2 separate regions of the Homo sapiens genome follow, and region 2 is linked to region 1. Evidence: fine-mapped expression QTL. Tissue or cell type: whole blood. Region 1 holds a variant in brackets; the other region holds the start of a gene. All regions are shown on one strand. Distances are from middle to middle.

Region 1 (8,100 bases):
AGGAAAATGAAGGGCACAGGAAAAGCCGGGCCCTGGGGAGGAGATGGAGGAAAAGGGAAGTCAGACAAGATTCCCCAGTGCCAGTGACGGGCACCACTGCCTCCCCAGAGCCACCACAAGCCAGCCGCCCCTTGGCAGCAGGGGTCTGGGAGCCCTTGGCAGTTCAACCCTGTACGGACACCGTTTGAGGGGCTAGAAATAAGCCAGGATGAAATGTTATGAAATAATAATAATAGTCCCTTCTCTGGCCCACTGCAGAACCCTAGAAAGTAAGGGACTGGGGCCAACGGCAGCTGCAGTCAAGGTGCCTGCAGCTATGTGACCCCAGGGCCTAGCCCGCCCCTGCCTCCCGCCCTTCACTTAATTCCAAATACCTTTTCTCTTGTCAGCCGCAAGTCAGTGGGCTTCAAAGTCAGGCGGTGGCTCCCGTGACCCTTTGTGGGGAGGGCAGGGGTGGGCCCAGCTTCTGTGTGTTCTGCTCAGTGGGCCAGGAGGCCCCAGGCCTGCAACGAGAGGGAGGGAGGGAGCTCGGCCTGCCGGTCATTGCTCCGCACCTAGGCCCTTGCAGCTTGGAACGGACCAGCAGCCGGGAACAGCTGGTCCGATCCCACCGCCCTGCTAGGGAGGCTGCCCAAGGTACCCGGAGAGCCTTGGACTGGGGAGCTCAGGGCTGGATGAGCCAGAGCTCCAGGAGAGGAAGGCTGCGCTCACCTGAACTAAAAGTCGTGTTACAATCATACCTGCAGGTGTCAACCTCACTTTCGTTGCAGAGAGGAGGGTCTGGAATCACATGCTCCTCCAGGCAGCATTTTACAGAAAGCTGCCCTGACAGCCACGACGTACTCCCCCACTTCTACCTCTATCTCGGATTCTGTTGCAGAATGTGGCGAGGTATCACAGGGCTGCCAGCCACGGACAGGTTTGAGGGGACCGGAGTAGGGGGTTGCAGGGACGAGCTGGCAGGATCCAAATCCCTCCCGTCAGATGTGTCTCCACCCACAGCTTCCTTTTCCATTGGAGCAAACATAACAAAACAAGTGTCAACTACACTTCCTGATTCCTGAGTTACGAAAAGCCAGTGCCACCCACAGGTCCGTCCACCCCCTCCTCTTGACCCGGCCCTTCCAGTGGCACCTTATTCTGTTATTTGCTCTCTATTTTTCTTTAAAAGCATTCACTGCTATTACTTAGGTAAATGCATCCATAAGGGAACTTTATGTGACTACTGTTAGGTGGAAAAAAAACTAAGATCATGGGCCATAAATAGAAGGTAAAAGTAAAAATAAATTACAATTAAAATAAGCAATGTTAGGAAATTCTAGCTGGCTATTGTTGCCTGCCGATGGCATTTTGATAGAAAAGCGTTGGGGAGTTGCAAGCTTCCCCTCCAGGGGACCAGAGGGCTGAGACAGAGAAGGGAATCACCTTTGTGTGGTATGAGGCTGTGTGATCCCTGACGTCACTGTCTCCTAGGTCACCGAGGGTGCCCACCCCACACTGGGGAAACACTGACCTGAGGGGCACCCCTAAGCCAGTGAACCAGGGGACAGGGCTCCTTGCGAGGCAAGGACCAGATGGCATTTAACGCTGATAGGCACTATCATGACCTCCTGGGCATGAAACAGGTACCTCCCTGGTCCTTTTTCCAGAAGAGGTTGCAGAAGCCCTCTGGACAGGCCTGGCTCATGTCCTCCTGCTGGAGCGGGCTGACATAGCCCTCAGCCCTCCACTCCCAGCGTGGCCCGTCCGCTCTCCACAGATGTGCCACGCTTTCTCTAGGGTCCCCGCCCTGGGATTCCCTCCCGACCTGGCACATCTCAGTCAACCCCACCTGCCTTCCAGGTCCCCTCCGCCAGCCCTCGGCGGCCTCTCTGGGGCAGGACAGCATCCTCCTGAGGACCATGATGTCTGTAGTACTGTTCTGCCATCCGGAACTTCTCGTAAGTGGGACCCCACTGACCACCCTCTCGATTTCTAAGTGAAGCCAGAGAGTTGGATCACAATTATCCCCTGTGCCAATAATTTCCTTTATGAGAAATGCAGTTGTAAGTCTTAGAAAGGGACATGTGAATTAAAACAGGCAGTCACGCAGAACAAGGGGGAGGGAACGCATGAGGGTGCCAGGAGGTCCCCAAATTGTCCTCCAGGTGGAGACCAGCTGGGATGGCGGTGACGTCTCACCTGCACCAGGACTGGCAGCTCTGTCACATCCCCACAACACAGGGCCCTGGCAGGCCTCACTCTGCACTGGCTGGCTGTATCTGGGGCACAGACACACGGGCTGGTGGCGTATGTCACAGGTGGCAAATGTGTCACTTGGCCTCAAGACTCCCTGCATGCAGTGGAGACAGTGAGGCCTCTGTCCACACAGGCCCCAGCTGGGCCATGACCCGCTCTTGAGGCCCATCCCTTACCCTGACCTCACAGCTTCCCTGGTTGCCTTCCAGGGTCAGCAGAGCAGCCTGGATGCACTCAGAAGCCCCGGGGGACTCAGGCCACTCTCCCTGAGACCCAAGAGCATCCCCCTGCAGCTTGTGATGAGCCCTGGGTAGGGAAAAGGTGACACAAGGGGGCTCATAGCCACCACCAGGTCCAGCTGGGCCAGGGCACTCATCCCAGTCTATGGGGAGAGTCCACCTTGGCTCCAGCTGGCAGGATGAATTAGGAAATGAGAGCCAGCCCTTTGCAGCCTAGAGCAGTGGCTCAGGCAGGGCCTGGCCAGGGGCTGTGGGCAGGAGTGTCTGAGGCTGGAGGAGCAGCCCCCAGGCATCCCATCGCACTCCCTCAGGGCATCCGAGGAATCCCACCTTGACTCCTCTCGGTCTTAGCTCCAAAGCCACGTCCAAGCAGGTGAAACAGGAAGCCCCCTCCCCAAGGGGCTTTCTAGGGCAGAATGCCTGAAAGATCAGGGCAATCACCACAAACACAGATGGAAATCGGAAAGCCGGCTCCTAAAACATCTCAGGGCTCCACGCTAACACGGAGACAGGAGAGGACCACGGGTGGGGCAGGGGTTTTAATGCTGCCCAGATCTGGGTGCAAGTCTCAGTGCCACCCCGTGCCAGCCATGTGGCTTTCAGCAAGTGACTTCCCTTCTGTGAGCCTGTTTCTGCATCTGCCAAATAGGCCTGATGATAGCACTGACCAAGCACAGGCTTTCTGTGAATTTTCATACATTTGTATGGAGGGTGCACAATACCTGGGATGTATAGATGAAATTTGTATAGGTGGTCGCAGTTATTACTATTATTATTATTATTTACAGACAGGATCTTGCTCTGTCACCCAAGCTGGAGGGCAGTGGCACCATCACAGCTCACTGCAGCCTCAACCTCCTGGGTTCAAGTGATCCTCCCATCTCAGCCTCCCAAAGTGTCGGGATTACAGGCATGAGCCACCGTGCCCAGTTTGCAATGATCATTACTGAATATCACGTACATACGTGTATTGGCAGGTGTTAAACGTGTAAGATACTTTTAAGTAAAGAAACTTAAAACAGACTATTTCTATGAGTTAGTTTAATTTAGTCTATAGATGAGAAGATATATACACAGTTCTGTTTCATTTCAGCTCCTGGAACAAGGGCCTGTCTGCCCACTCTTATAAGACAGATGTATCTCTCCATCCTGGCACCGCCCAGCCACCACCCCCTCCCAGGCCATGGGCCCTGCTGCATCCCCCCGTGGCCCTAACCAGGGACCTTTCTTCTTTGTTTTCTTTTCTTTTATTTATTTATTTTTTAACACAGAGTCTCCCTTTGTCGCCCAGGCTGGAGTGCAGTGGCACGATCTCGGCTCACTGCAACCTCTGCCTCCCGGGTTCAAGTGATTCTCCTGCCTCAGCCTCCTGAGTAGCTGGGATTACAGGCGCCCGCCATCACACCCGGCTAATTTTTGTATTTTTAGTAGAGACGGGGTTTCACTATGTTGGCCAGGCTGGTCTGGAACTCCTGACCTCAGGTGATCCACCCACCTTGGCCTCCCAAAGTGCTGGGATTACAGGCATGAGCCACCGCGCCCGGCCTGTTTTCTCATTTGTGAAGATGCAGGGCTGCTGTGAGGACTGGGTGAGAGGCGCACCTGGCACGTAGCAGGTTCTCACTGGGCGAGTTGCCCCCAAGCCCCAGCGACAAGCCCAGCCAAGGCCCCCGCTCCCCGCCTGGGGAGGTCAAAGGGGCAGGTGGGAAATTGAAACCCGAGATGAATGGCCATTCTGCAGCTGGAGTCCAGAAAGATTCTGGGCATGGGAGCATCACTGGAAAAGGAAATGTGG[G/A]GCCCTTGCCCAGGGGAGGGACCGGGGGGGGGGTTCTAGATCCAGCTCTGCCCCCACCCAGGTCACCTCGCTGGCTACAAATGACGACCCCAAGTGGTGCAATGTAGATGTCCAAAGTGAGAAGCAAGGCTTGTGCAAGGCTGTGTGGGGGTTACCTGGGGGTTTGATCTCGGTACCATGAGTGACTCCCAGAATGAGACAATGTCTGCCCCTTCTGCAGGGCAGATGTGAGGAGCCTGAGGGACCTGCTCCCAGGCCACCAGCTCTTTGTGCAAATCTTGGTTTTCTGGTGCTTGGTTGGCTGGAAGAAGAGTGTGGCTGGATTGGGGGCGTGGTCTCTGCTCCCTCAGCCCCACCCACCAGGTGGGGGAAATGGAGGAGAGGGACCCACAGGAGGGTGGTCAGGGCAGCTAGAAGAGATTTGCTCAGGTACCACAGACCCTTGGTCCCTGGAGCACCCCTCTCTGCTAGGAGAGTTGGCAACCAGAACCAACAGTTTTCAAGGCTGCACACCTGGTGGAGGTTGTTGCGGGGGTTGGCCAGGTGCAGGCCCAGGCAGGCAGGGAAGCGCGGAGGCTGGGCTGGGCTGGGTTCCAAGGCAGGGCGGAGCCTCCCAGGGAAGCCGCAGTCACCCATCCGTCACTTATTCATCCATCAAATATGTACCGATGCATGGCCTGGGTGCCGAGACACCCACGACCAGACAGACACAGCCCTGCCTTCCTGGGGCCTGTGATGGGGTCAGCCACGTAGGTCAGTCAGGCCTGGTGGGCAGCAGCTAGGACTTTGCATCTTCCTCTCCGCAAGCCCCTGGGGGGTTCTGAGCCGGCAAGAGATGGGATTTGACTTGCATTTTAAAAGGGTCTTTTAGCTTCTGTGTGGAGAAGGGTGGAGCTGGGAGACTGTGGGGAACTGCGGCATTCTTATGGGGGAGCGGGGATGGCCCAGCCCTGGGTCCCAGGCACCCTGGAAAGGGGCCGGGGGCCAAATGTGTGAGGTTTTTGTTTCATTTTGTTTTTTTTCTGAGACGGAGTCTCGGAGTCTCGCTCTGTCACCCAGGCTGGAGTGCACTGACGGCGATCTCCACTCACTGCAACCTCCGCCTCCCAGGTTCAAGCGATTCTCCTGCCTCAGCCTCCCGAGTAGTTGGAATTACAAGCATGCACCTCCACACCCAGCTAATTTTTGTATTTTTAGGAGAGACAGGGTTTGTTTTTTTTTTTCTTTGAGACGGAGTCTCACTCTGTCGCCCAGGCTGGAGTGCAGTGGCGCGATCTCAGCTCACCGCAAGCTCTGCCTCCCCAGTTCACGCCATTCTCCTGCCTCAGCTTCCCCAGTAGCTGGGACTACAGGCACCTGCCACCATGCCCGGCTAATTTTTTGTATTTTTAGTAGAGATGGGGTTTCACTGTGTTAGTCAGGATGGTGTCAATCTCCTGACCTCATAATCTGCCCGCCTCGGCCTCCCAAAGTGCTGGGATTACAGGCATGAGCCACCGCGCCTGGCCTAGTAGAGACAGAGTTTCACCATACTGGCCAGACTGGTCTCGAACTGACCTCAGATGATCCACCTTCCTTGGCCTCCCAAGGGGTTAGGATTACAGGCTTGAGCCACCATACCGGGCCTCAAGTGTGTTTTAAAGTGAGAGCTCAGACGATCGCTGGTCTAGCTATGATTGTGCCACTGTACCCCAGCCTGGGTGACAGAGTGAAACCCTGTCTCAAAAAAAAAAAAAAAAGGCAACCCATCACGTGGATGTAATGGAGAGGTGGGGGTCAAGGGCTGCTCCAAGAGCTTTGACCTGAGGAAGCAGAGCACGCAATTTCCATTTGCTGTGGGAGGAGCAGGTTTCAAGCTTATCAGTGGAGGAGATGGGGTTTGGGAAACATTAAGTTTGAGGATCGAGGAACCCGTCCTTTGGGAGTGCAGGCCTAGAGGTCAGGGGAGGGGCCGGACTTCGGGGAGGAACCTGGGACCCAGCGCCTGGGATGGAAGAGCTCTCCCAGTAAGAGGGCGGGCAGGCAGTTTACACAGGACAGGAGGAGCAAATGAGAGGCAGGGAGGCAAAGTGGGAGGCAAAGCCATGTCCTGGGGCCAGGAGAAGGGTGTGTTGACAGACAGAAGGAGTGAGCGGCCATGTCTGAGGCTGCTGGCAGGTGGAGGACTGTGATGGTCAATGCTGACCTTGGCAAGAGCTGTTTGGGTGGAATGGCAGGGCTGGGAGCCCAACTTTGGTGGGCCTGGGGGATGATGGGGGCCGGGGGAGGAGCGGAGAGACAGCACAGAGACCACCCTTCCAAGGGAATATGCTGGAAGGGGATCGGATAAGCACGGCGGAAGCTAAAGGGGATTGTGGGGTCAGAGGGTGGCTTCTTACAATCTGGGGGCATTCCTGCATGTTTGTGGCATGCTGATGGGGCTGACCCAGGAGAGGAAACAGCTGGTGACGCAGGAGAGATGGGGCCATGTGAAGGGAAGCCAGGGGAAGGTGGAGAGGAAGCGAGGTGCACGGGGCCCGGGCAGGGAAGGACCTGACGGGCATGAGAGGAGGGACAGCTGATGGGCATGAAAGGAGGGGCAGCTGCCCAGGGGGACACCCAGGGAGGCTGGTGAGTGCAGGGCCAGGAATGCCTCTGATTGCCTCTGCGTTTTCAATGAAGCTCATGCCTGTAATCCCAACATTCTGGGAGGCCAAGGCAGGAGGATGTCTTGAGCTCAGGAGTTTGAGGCCAGCCTGTGCAACATAGTGAGACCCTGTCTCTACAAAAAAGAAAAAGAAAAAAAAGCTAGCCAGGCGTGGTGATGTGTACCTGTAGCCCCAGCTACTCAAGAAGGATGAGGAGGGAGGATCACTTTAGCCCAGAAGTTTGAGGCTGCAGTGAATCGTGATCACACCACTGTACTCCAGCCTCAGCAACATAGCAAGATCCTGCCTCAAAAAAAAAAAAAAGCAACCTATCATCCGACAGTGAGAATGAGGGCTGAGGGAGGGTGGGGTATTGGAGGTTTGGGGAGAGAGAGAAGTTGTGGTCTGGGAGACGGGGGCTGCAAGCTGACCGAGGAACACAGAGGATTGCTGGACAGCACAAATGTTTGTTGGAGGTCAAGGTCATGAGATATAAAGCTGTTTGTGCCATCAGGTGGCTTTGTCCAGGGCTCCGCTGCTTGGATGTCAGAGCACACTGAGCAGCACCCAGAACTCAACCGGGACAGGGGTTCTGCCAGGTGGATGGAGGAGGGGGAGGGCAGGGTGACTGAGGGCGTCTGCAGCAGACAATGAGCCTGGAACCCAAGGAAGCAGAGGACACGGGAGGTGAAGGAAAAGGAATGTGCCCTGGGGGCAGATGGCAAGAGGCAAAGAAAGATCAGAGTTAAGGTTGCAGAGGGAATGTGTGGAAAGACAAGAGGCAGTGCTCCAAGATGGGATGCTTCAGGCGGAAATGGCAGATGGGAGGGTGTTACTGACCAAGTCAGGACCCAGGGTGTATCATGGACGTGGCTGTTGACGTAGGGGCTGACAAGGGGGTGGGGGGAAGGGCGAAGAAGATTTCAGAACAGATGTAGGGGCTCCCACCTGTAATCTCAGCACTTTGGGAGGCCGAGACTAGAGGATCACTTGAGCTCAGGAGTTTGAGACCAGCCTGGGCAACATAGTGAGACCTCGTCCTTACAAAAAATACAAAAATTAGCTGGGCATGGTGGCATGTGCCTGTGGTCCCAGCTGCTTAGGAGGCTGAGGTGGGAGGTTTGCTTGAGCCCAGGAAGTCAAGGTGGCAGTGTGCTGTGATTGTGCCCCTGCACTCCAGCCTGAGTGACAGAGCGAGACC
Region 2 (8,096 bases), 100 kb after region 1:
AGACAGAGTGTGGGCCCCCAACAGACCCAGAGGATGGGGCCACCCAGAAGAGGCTGACCACTTCTCAGCTGGCCCCAGTGAATGAAAGGAACTTCAAAGATCCCCAAACTCACCTTGTGGGGGACTAGGAGGTGCCACGAGGAGCTGCCCATGTGAGGGGCCTGGTCCTTCTGCCCCCAACCTGTAGGTGGAAATCCACCTCCATCCCTGCCCTGTTTCCCCATCTGGGCCCCCAGATTCATGTTCTGGGGTACAGCTCTGAATGAGGGGCTGAGGCTGAGACTGACATTTGCTTCCTTATGGGCCCTGGTCCCACAGCACTTGGCAGTAAAGCGGTGGGGGTCGATCAAACCAAGATCATATTCACCAAGAGCTGGGCCCTGAGAACTGGCCTTGGCTCCACTGACAGCGGAAGCTGATTTGGAGGAACCTCTGGTGAACTCCCACCCTGGAAACAGATGGGTTTGGGCTCAGATCTTGACTCCACCCCTTGCTGGTATGTGACCTCAAGCAAGGTGTGTAAACTCTTAGTTTCCCCCAATAAACACTGGGCCATGACAGAAAGAAGACCCCAAATCAGTGCTGATAATATTTTCTGGAGCTGTGGGCTTGCAGTGTGCCAGACACTGTGGATCCCAGACTTCACTGTTGCATACAGAGTCCTCACAGCTGTAAAGCCGGTAAGAGCTCCCAGATCCCTCTGCATGCTAGTGATGTCTCAAAGGTGAACTTCAAACATAAATAAATAAAGTCTTTTTTTTTTTTTTTTTTTGAGACGGAGTCTCACTCTGTTGCCCAGGTTGGAGTGCAGTGGCGCCATCTGGGCTCACTGCAAGCTCCGCCTCCCGGGTTCACACCATTCTCCTGTCCCAGCCTCCCAAATAGCTGGGACTACAAGCACCCGCCACCACGCCCAGCTAATTTTTTGTGATTTTTAGTAGAGACAGGGTTTCACTGTGTTAGCCAGGAAGCTCTTGATCTCCTGACCTCGTGATCTGTCCGCCTCGGCCTCCCGAAGTGCTGGGATTACAGGCGTGAGCCACCGCGCCCGGCCATAAATAAAGTCTTTGTGTGCCTTTAAGACAGGCACCAGGGAAGTGAAGGGCAGTGTATTTTTACTTCTACGTGTTATCACCTGAGCAAGTTCCACAGCCTGTAGGTCTGTATCACCAATAAAATGTAGGTAGGACATCCTTTATCTGAAGTCCCCTGAAATTTCAATCCTGGCTTCTCTGGGAGGAGGCCTGGAGAGGTGCTATTGGTCACAGGGGCCCAAAGCGTTTGAGATTGTTCGAGGGGGCCAAGGGAAGGACACAGCACCAGCCCTGGGGCCATGTGATCTTGGGCAAGTCTCACGCTGTCAGTGTCCGAGTTTCCTCATCGGAAAAATGAAGTAAACACCCGCTAACTCTGTCTTCACTCTCAACGCCTGGCATGGAGTAGATGCTAAGAAACTTTTGCAGAAATCTTGGAAATTCTTAAGACTAAAGAAAGACCCAGAGACCACAGGGTGGGCTACTGGGTCTCTCCACTCCCACCAAGGGATGAAGTAGGTGCTGAGAACTCAGAAGGAAGCCCCAAAAAGCAGAGACTCAGAAGATCCCCTGAGGAGGCGGTGAAGCAGCAGGACGTCTGGTCATGGGCCTCCCCCCTGAGTCCAGCCCCACAAGGTCCACCTATCTCTGGGAGACTCTGCAGACCTCGTTCATCCTTCAGGGATCCACTCATGGACCCTCCTCAGGCAAACCTCCAGACCATTTCCAAGAGCCTCCAGAGCTGTCTGGGCAGCCCCCACCCCAGGCACCTTTGAAACCCCTGGGAGCAGCAACCAGCCCCCTTCAGGCCTCTTGGTCCAGATAGAGCGCCCCCAGGAATCAGCAATCCTGTCCCTCTCTTCTCCCACTGTCTCAGTCCCCAGCTGGGACCTGAAGGGTTCAGGATAAGAAGGAAAGCTGTGTCAACAGAAGTTAAGTCGGTGAGTCCCCGGGCCTTTGGTATTCACCTCCCGTCTCGAGCGCAGGGTCCTGTCCCAGCTCCTAGCTCCGCCCCCTGGGAACTGTGTGGTTCCCCAAGTCACTCCACTCCTCCGAGCCTCAGGCCCCTCCTCTACAAACGTTAGAGTGAGGCATTGGGGAGTTGCTGGGAAGGGCCTGCCCCATATTAGGCCCATAATAATAGTCCCTATTGTCATTATTATTAGTTAGGCACGAAAGGAAAGGTTACAGAGCTGGTGATTAGGGCACTCAGCGTTTCGGCTCCCAGGACGCTTTTGAGCCTCAGCTGGTCGCGAGGTCCACACACTCCCTGGGTCATGCCTGGCCTCGGAACTCTCTCCATCAGAGAAGGTCAAAATTCACGATGTTTTGGTTTTTCCTGTCAGACAAATGGGGAGGACTTCCCTTCCGCAAGCATTCCCAGAGGCCCCTCGACCAAAAAGTCAAGGAGTCAGGCCCTACATTCTCTGCGGTAGAGGGTACCCCCAAAACCTCGCTCCTTTGATGTTCCCCAGTGTCAAGCCGGCGGCTCCACCAGCCTCCTGTAGAGAGGCCTTGACTCCCGCGGGTCACTCGGGGGGGCGACAGGTGCGCAGGTGGAGGCGCCGCGCCGCTGGGGGAGCGATGAGCGGCGCGCACCTGCCGCAGGTGAGGCCCAGCCGTGCGGAAAGGGGAGGAGCCGTCGCCGCAGCACTCAGGTGAGCCGACCCCCGGCTCCCGGGACCTAAGGCGAGGGCAGCCGCGGGCTTCAACGTGGCCGCTGCCAGGCGACCTATGCTGCAGACTGCGGCCCCGGCGGCTCCGAGTCCCGCGCGGCGCGGCAGCCCCAGGAGAACATTCGAGGCAGCAGCGGCGTTGGAGGCCCGGGGTCCGTTCGGTATTTGAATAGCACAAAGGAACCGCCTTGGTCTGATTGGCCAGCCGAGTAGCCCCGGGGCGGGCTGCGCCTGTCACTCAGGAGACTCTCAGAGCTCCTATTGGCTCTTCTCATGTGGGGCGGGGCCCGGGCACCCGGCTAAATAGCTGGGGCCGGGGCCGGCCGAGACTCATTGCTTTGGCGCCGTCTGGGGAGCGCGAGCCCGCGGGTGGCGCGCGGCGCATGGTGGCGGCTCCTTTCGGAGCGCAGCCGAACCTCTGACCCGGACTCCGTTACCCCTGCCCGGCGCGCCCCGGCGGCCGGCTGGAGGCAGAAACAGCAGAAGCGTTAACAGCAGCAGCGGCGGCGGCTGCTCCGCCGCCGTCTCCGCGGGAGCATGGAGTGCGCCCTGGACGCCCAGAGCCTGATCAGCATCTCCCTGCGCAAGATCCACAGCTCCCGAACCCAGCGCGGCGGCATCAAGCTGCACAAGAACCTCCTGGTGTCCTACGTGCTCCGCAACGCGCGCCAGCTCTACCTGAGCGAGCGCTACGCCGAGCTCTACCGGCGCCAGCAGCAGCAGCAACAGCAGCAGCCGCCCCACCACCAGCACCAGCACCTAGCGTACGCGGCGCCGGGCATGCCGGCCAGCGCGGCCGACTTCGGCCCGCTCCAACTTGGCGGCGGCGGGGACGCGGAGGCGCGCGAGCCGGCCGCCCGGCACCAGCTGCACCAGCTCCACCAGCTCCACCAGCTGCACCTCCAGCAGCAGCTGCACCAGCACCAGCACCCGGCGCCCAGGGGCTGCGCGGCGGCGGCGGCGGCCGGAGCGCCCGCGGGCGGCGCGGGGGCGCTCTCGGAGCTGCCCGGGTGCGCCGCGCTCCAGCCGCCGCACGGCGCGCCCCACCGCGGGCAGCCCTTGGAGCCTCTGCAGCCGGGTCCTGCGCCGCTGCCGCTGCCGCTGCCGCCGCCCGCGCCCGCTGCGCTCTGCCCGCGGGACCCTCGCGCCCCGGCCGCCTGCTCCGCGCCCCCAGGGGCCGCCCCTCCGGCCGCCGCCGCTTCTCCGCCCGCCTCCCCGGCCCCCGCCTCCTCCCCCGGCTTCTACCGGGGCGCATACCCTACCCCTTCGGACTTCGGCTTGCACTGCAGCAGCCAGACCACCGTGCTGGACCTAGACACTCACGTGGTGACCACGGTGGAGAACGGCTACTTGCACCAGGACTGCTGCGCCTCCGCCCACTGCCCCTGCTGTGGCCAGGGCGCTCCGGGACCGGGCCTGGCGTCCGCCGCCGGCTGCAAGCGCAAGTATTACCCTGGCCAGGAGGAGGAGGAAGACGACGAGGAGGATGCGGGCGGGCTGGGGGCCGAGCCCCCCGGGGGCGCCCCGTTCGCCCCCTGCAAGCGCGCCCGCTTCGAGGACTTCTGCCCGGACTCGTCCCCGGACGCGTCCAACATCTCAAACTTGATCTCCATCTTTGGCTCCGGCTTCTCGGGGCTGGTGAGCCGACAGCCGGACTCCTCGGAGCAGCCGCCGCCGCTCAACGGGCAGCTGTGCGCCAAGCAGGCGCTCGCCAGCCTCGGCGCCTGGACTCGAGCCATTGTCGCCTTCTAGGGACCCCCGAGGGCACAGGGACCCGGGGCCCCGCGGGGCTGGGGCCAGACAAAGACTCGGCAAAGGGGCGAGAGGAGGGAACGAGCGGGCGCCGGGCCACTCGGGGCTGAGCTGGGGGCGAGCGGGGGCAGGCGGCTGATGTTTTATAAATTGTAAAATAAAAAAAAAAGAAATCTAAAATCTTGGACTTTATTTTTGCAGAGAGAAAAAGCGCCTATTTAAGTATGCTTTGTGTTTCTCCTACTCCTTTTTTTCTTTTTATTGTAGTGATTGCAGTGGTGTTTAGCGAGGAGCCTACCACGTGAGGGAGGGCTGCTGCCCGGAGGAGGTGCCGGGCAGCCGGGGGCGAGGCAGGGCGCCCTGGCCGCCGGGGCGCGCCGGGGGCGCAGCTCAGGAGGGCGCCGGACCTGGGAAGCCGATTCCAATCAGTTGTCAGACCCGGGAAGCCCGACGTTCCGCTCTCCCGAGTCCCTCTGTGGGGTGAGGAATGGGTCTTGTGAAATTCTGAGCAAAAACAAAGGCAAACTCTATCTCCGAAAGGGACGTTTGGGTCACATTTCCTCTCTGGGGGCGGACTCCAAAGTTCTCAAAATGAGAAGGCAGAAATGAAAACACTTCAACTTTTTTTTTCTTTTCTTCCCGGGGCGGGTGTCTTGAACCCCTCTTCTCCCCGCCCCTCTGGCTCCGTTCTCCTCCCCTCCTCCACCCGTCTCCCGGACTCGGGGGTGGCGCCTGACACCCCGACACTCTCGGACACTGGGTAAGGGGTGGGGGGCGGGCACGGCGGACTACATTTCCCATCATGCCTAGCACTGCGGTCCTCACTAAACAAAAAAGGAAGTCAATTCCTTCACCTGGATCCCCGGCGGCCCCGGGGGAGGGAGGGGCCGGGACCGCCGACTGCGTTGGAGACTTTGCACTAAGTTCCTGGTCAGCTGTGGTGTTTGTGTGTGTGCTTCTAAGTTGCACTGCCTTGGTTCAGCCTTCGGTTGCATTTCATGAAACCAGCATTGTTCGAGCCTGTGAGAACCCCGTCCTGTGTCTTCAGCTCGATAGATTTGTTTAATTTAAAAGCCTTTTGTTGTAAAAAGGTGGGGTTCGTCTGCAGCCCCTCTGGTTCTCTGCCATCAGCACCGTGTGGACTCCAAAACGAGTTGCCAATCCTTCCTTTCTCGGCCCTTTTCCCTCATTACCCTGTATTTTTGTGCATACTGAATTGTATATCACCGGGTAAAACTGTTCAGATTGTTTAAATTTATAATCTTAATAAAAAGTCGATTACAGAAGATGGTGGTGCCTTGTTTTCAGATGTCTGGGGGCGTCAGAGAGGATAGAGAGGTGTGGGGAGAGACCCCGCCCACCCCCATGTAAACCCCAGTTCTCTTCGGCCTGGGCGGGCGGGATCTACCCACATCCGCAAGGTCGGCGGTGGGAGAATGGGGGGTGATGTTGGTGGCTGGGGATGAAGCGGGTGCTGCGCGTCTCTCGGCCGCCCCCGCTCCAGGGGGGTCCTGTCCCCCACGGGAACTGGCCGCCCCGGGGTCTCCAGCGGGAAGCGGAGCCAGCCTCCAGCACATTTCCTGCCCAGGCACAGGCGCAGGGCCTGGTCGGCCTCGAGTCTGAGCTCTCTGTGGCCGGGGAAAGCAGCCGGGGGACGCCGGGGGTTTCAGGGCCACCCGCACTCCCTGCCCCGCGCCTCTGCCCCGCACGTCCGCATGTCTCGGGCTGCAACTTGGGGAAGTTTTTTCCTTTTCTTTTTCCCTTTTTTTTTTTTAAGTTGAGTTTGTTATCACTGCTCGGTGCCACTTGGTGGTGTGCTGGCGGCGTCTCCCTCCCTCCTCGCGCCCCTCCCCTCTCCCTCTCCTTCCCTCCCACCCGCCGCTCTTCCCTCCCCAGTGGATGGAGGGAGGAAGGCTCCCGGCGCGCGCTCCCCTCTGACCACCTACGGAATGACCTCAGAGTGGGAGAATGTGCCAAGGCCCGGGGGAAGCTCGCGTTCTCCCCACTGGAAACAAATCCACATCTGGAGCCGCGGCTTGGGCCCAGGGGCGCGCGGGATAGTTCCAGCTTTGCAAAGAGGGGTTAGGAAAGAAAGAACGAGAAAAAGAAAGCAAAGTGGCAGCCTGCTGGCTGTTTGCTGCCGACTCCCCACAGCTCCTCGCTCTCGCTGGCTCCCTCGCCCCCACACTGCCCTCGCCGGTGCGAGCCTCGCAGCCACCCCGCAGGACGGCTCGCGCCCCCCACCCCAGCCTTCGCGCCTCCCGCGGCGACAGGAGGGGCTGCCGCCAAGAGGCCCCCAAGCCAGACTCTGAGAGGCGGACGCAAGCCTGTCCCCGGGGACTGCTCCGCTCTGGATCCCGGTGTCACGCGAGGCGAAGTTCTCGGGGACACTCTCCAGAATGCGGGGGTCCGCGGAGGTCCGCGTTGGGGGTGGGGAAAAAGGAGGCTCTGGGGGCGTGAGTCGCGGGGAGGAAAGGCACCTTCACCCCCAGGGCTGCTTCATCGGCCTCCCACGGGAAGAGTCTGGAGCTGCCGAGGAGGGGGAACAGTGCGTTTCCTCCCTCCCCATTTTCCCCTGCAAGTCCAAGGAAATCGCGGTTGGCTGCACGGTTTTGCTTCAATCCACGAAGCCAGTTGCCAGAGCTCCCCCTAGCGCCGCTTCGGGCGCGCTGCAGTGGCTGGGGCTGAGAGTGGGCGAGGCTCGGCGGAGGCGGCGGGGCTGTCGGGGGCCGCTTCGCGTCCACCCGGGGAGCTGCGTGGAGTCTGCATCTCGCCCTTGCCTGAGCTGGGTCCCGGGGCCGCGTGCGTCCCCACTCCAGGCCCACGTCGAGGAGGGGCACGTGGTCGGCCCCCTTTGTTGGGAGCTGGGCACTGGAAGGGACCGGCCAAAGGGCTTGGGAATTCCCCACCCGCCCCAGGGATCCCTGTGGTAAAGGAGAGTGGATGGTGGGGTGCGAAATAAGATCTCTGAACTCAGCAGGACCCCAGACGAGGGCTCCCCTCCCCTCTGCCGGGTGATCTGAGCCTAAGCCGCACACTGGAATCTAGCAATGCCAAGGGATGGGATGGGGCGCTCTGGGAGCACCCTAAAGAGAGGTGCCCTTCCCCTTCCCTTATCTTCTCGGGGCCCAAGGACCTGGGCAGCCCCACAAAGGGTTAGTGCCCTGAGTATAATTCCCCTTGACCCAAAACGCAACCCACTGGCAATCTACCCGTCTCACCAAGACATTCCACACAAAACTGTAACAGGCTGCACAGCCTTGATTCTACACTACACCCCACACTGAGGGCCACACCCAGCCACACACTGTCTCCAACACTTGCTCCTAAGCTGCATCTTCACCCCACTCACAATCCCTGGGGCCACTGGCGCAGCAGGAAACATACCAGCCTAGAACATCCAGAGAGACCGATGTTCCCGTGCATAGCACAAGTGAGAGGCTGGGTCCGGGAGGCGGGTGGATGGGGTTGCCTGGCCATGGGGGTCGTCTGAAAGGGGGATGGGGTCAGGCGGGCAGGCAAACCAGGAGTCCATTTCAGCTCCACAGACAAGCCTCTCTCCCTCCAGTAAAAAGACCAGTGGAGCCCCCAGACAGGACTTAGGGGTGCTGCTTAGGGAGGTAGGGGAATTAGA

What was found. PIP is the estimated chance that this variant, and not a neighbour inherited with it, causes the effect.
Region 2: it holds the start of IER5L, and the variant in region 1 is fine-mapped to the expression of IER5L in whole blood (TOPMed, PIP 0.92).

The regions. Positions count from the first base shown.
Region 1 is chr9:129,275,333-129,283,432 of GRCh38, reverse strand. It overlaps LINC02975 (long intergenic non-protein coding RNA 2975), which reads right to left and starts at 1,017. Exons shown (of 3, transcript NR_121587.1): 1 at 741-1,017; 2 at 375-503. RefSeq lists enhancers at 4,585-5,493, 5,494-6,402. The variant G/A (reference allele first, on the strand shown) is at 4,273.
Region 2 is chr9:129,173,204-129,181,299 of GRCh38, reverse strand. IER5L (immediate early response 5 like) reads left to right here and starts at 3,039. Exons shown (of 1, transcript NM_203434.3): 1 at 3,039-5,748. The coding sequence starts at 3,248. The coding sequence ends at 4,462. RefSeq lists enhancers at 1,231-2,154, 2,155-3,078, 2,816-3,110, 5,485-5,544, 5,474-6,195 and silencers at 2,835-3,214, 3,445-3,784, 4,735-4,884, 5,225-5,274, 5,848-5,947 and 1 more.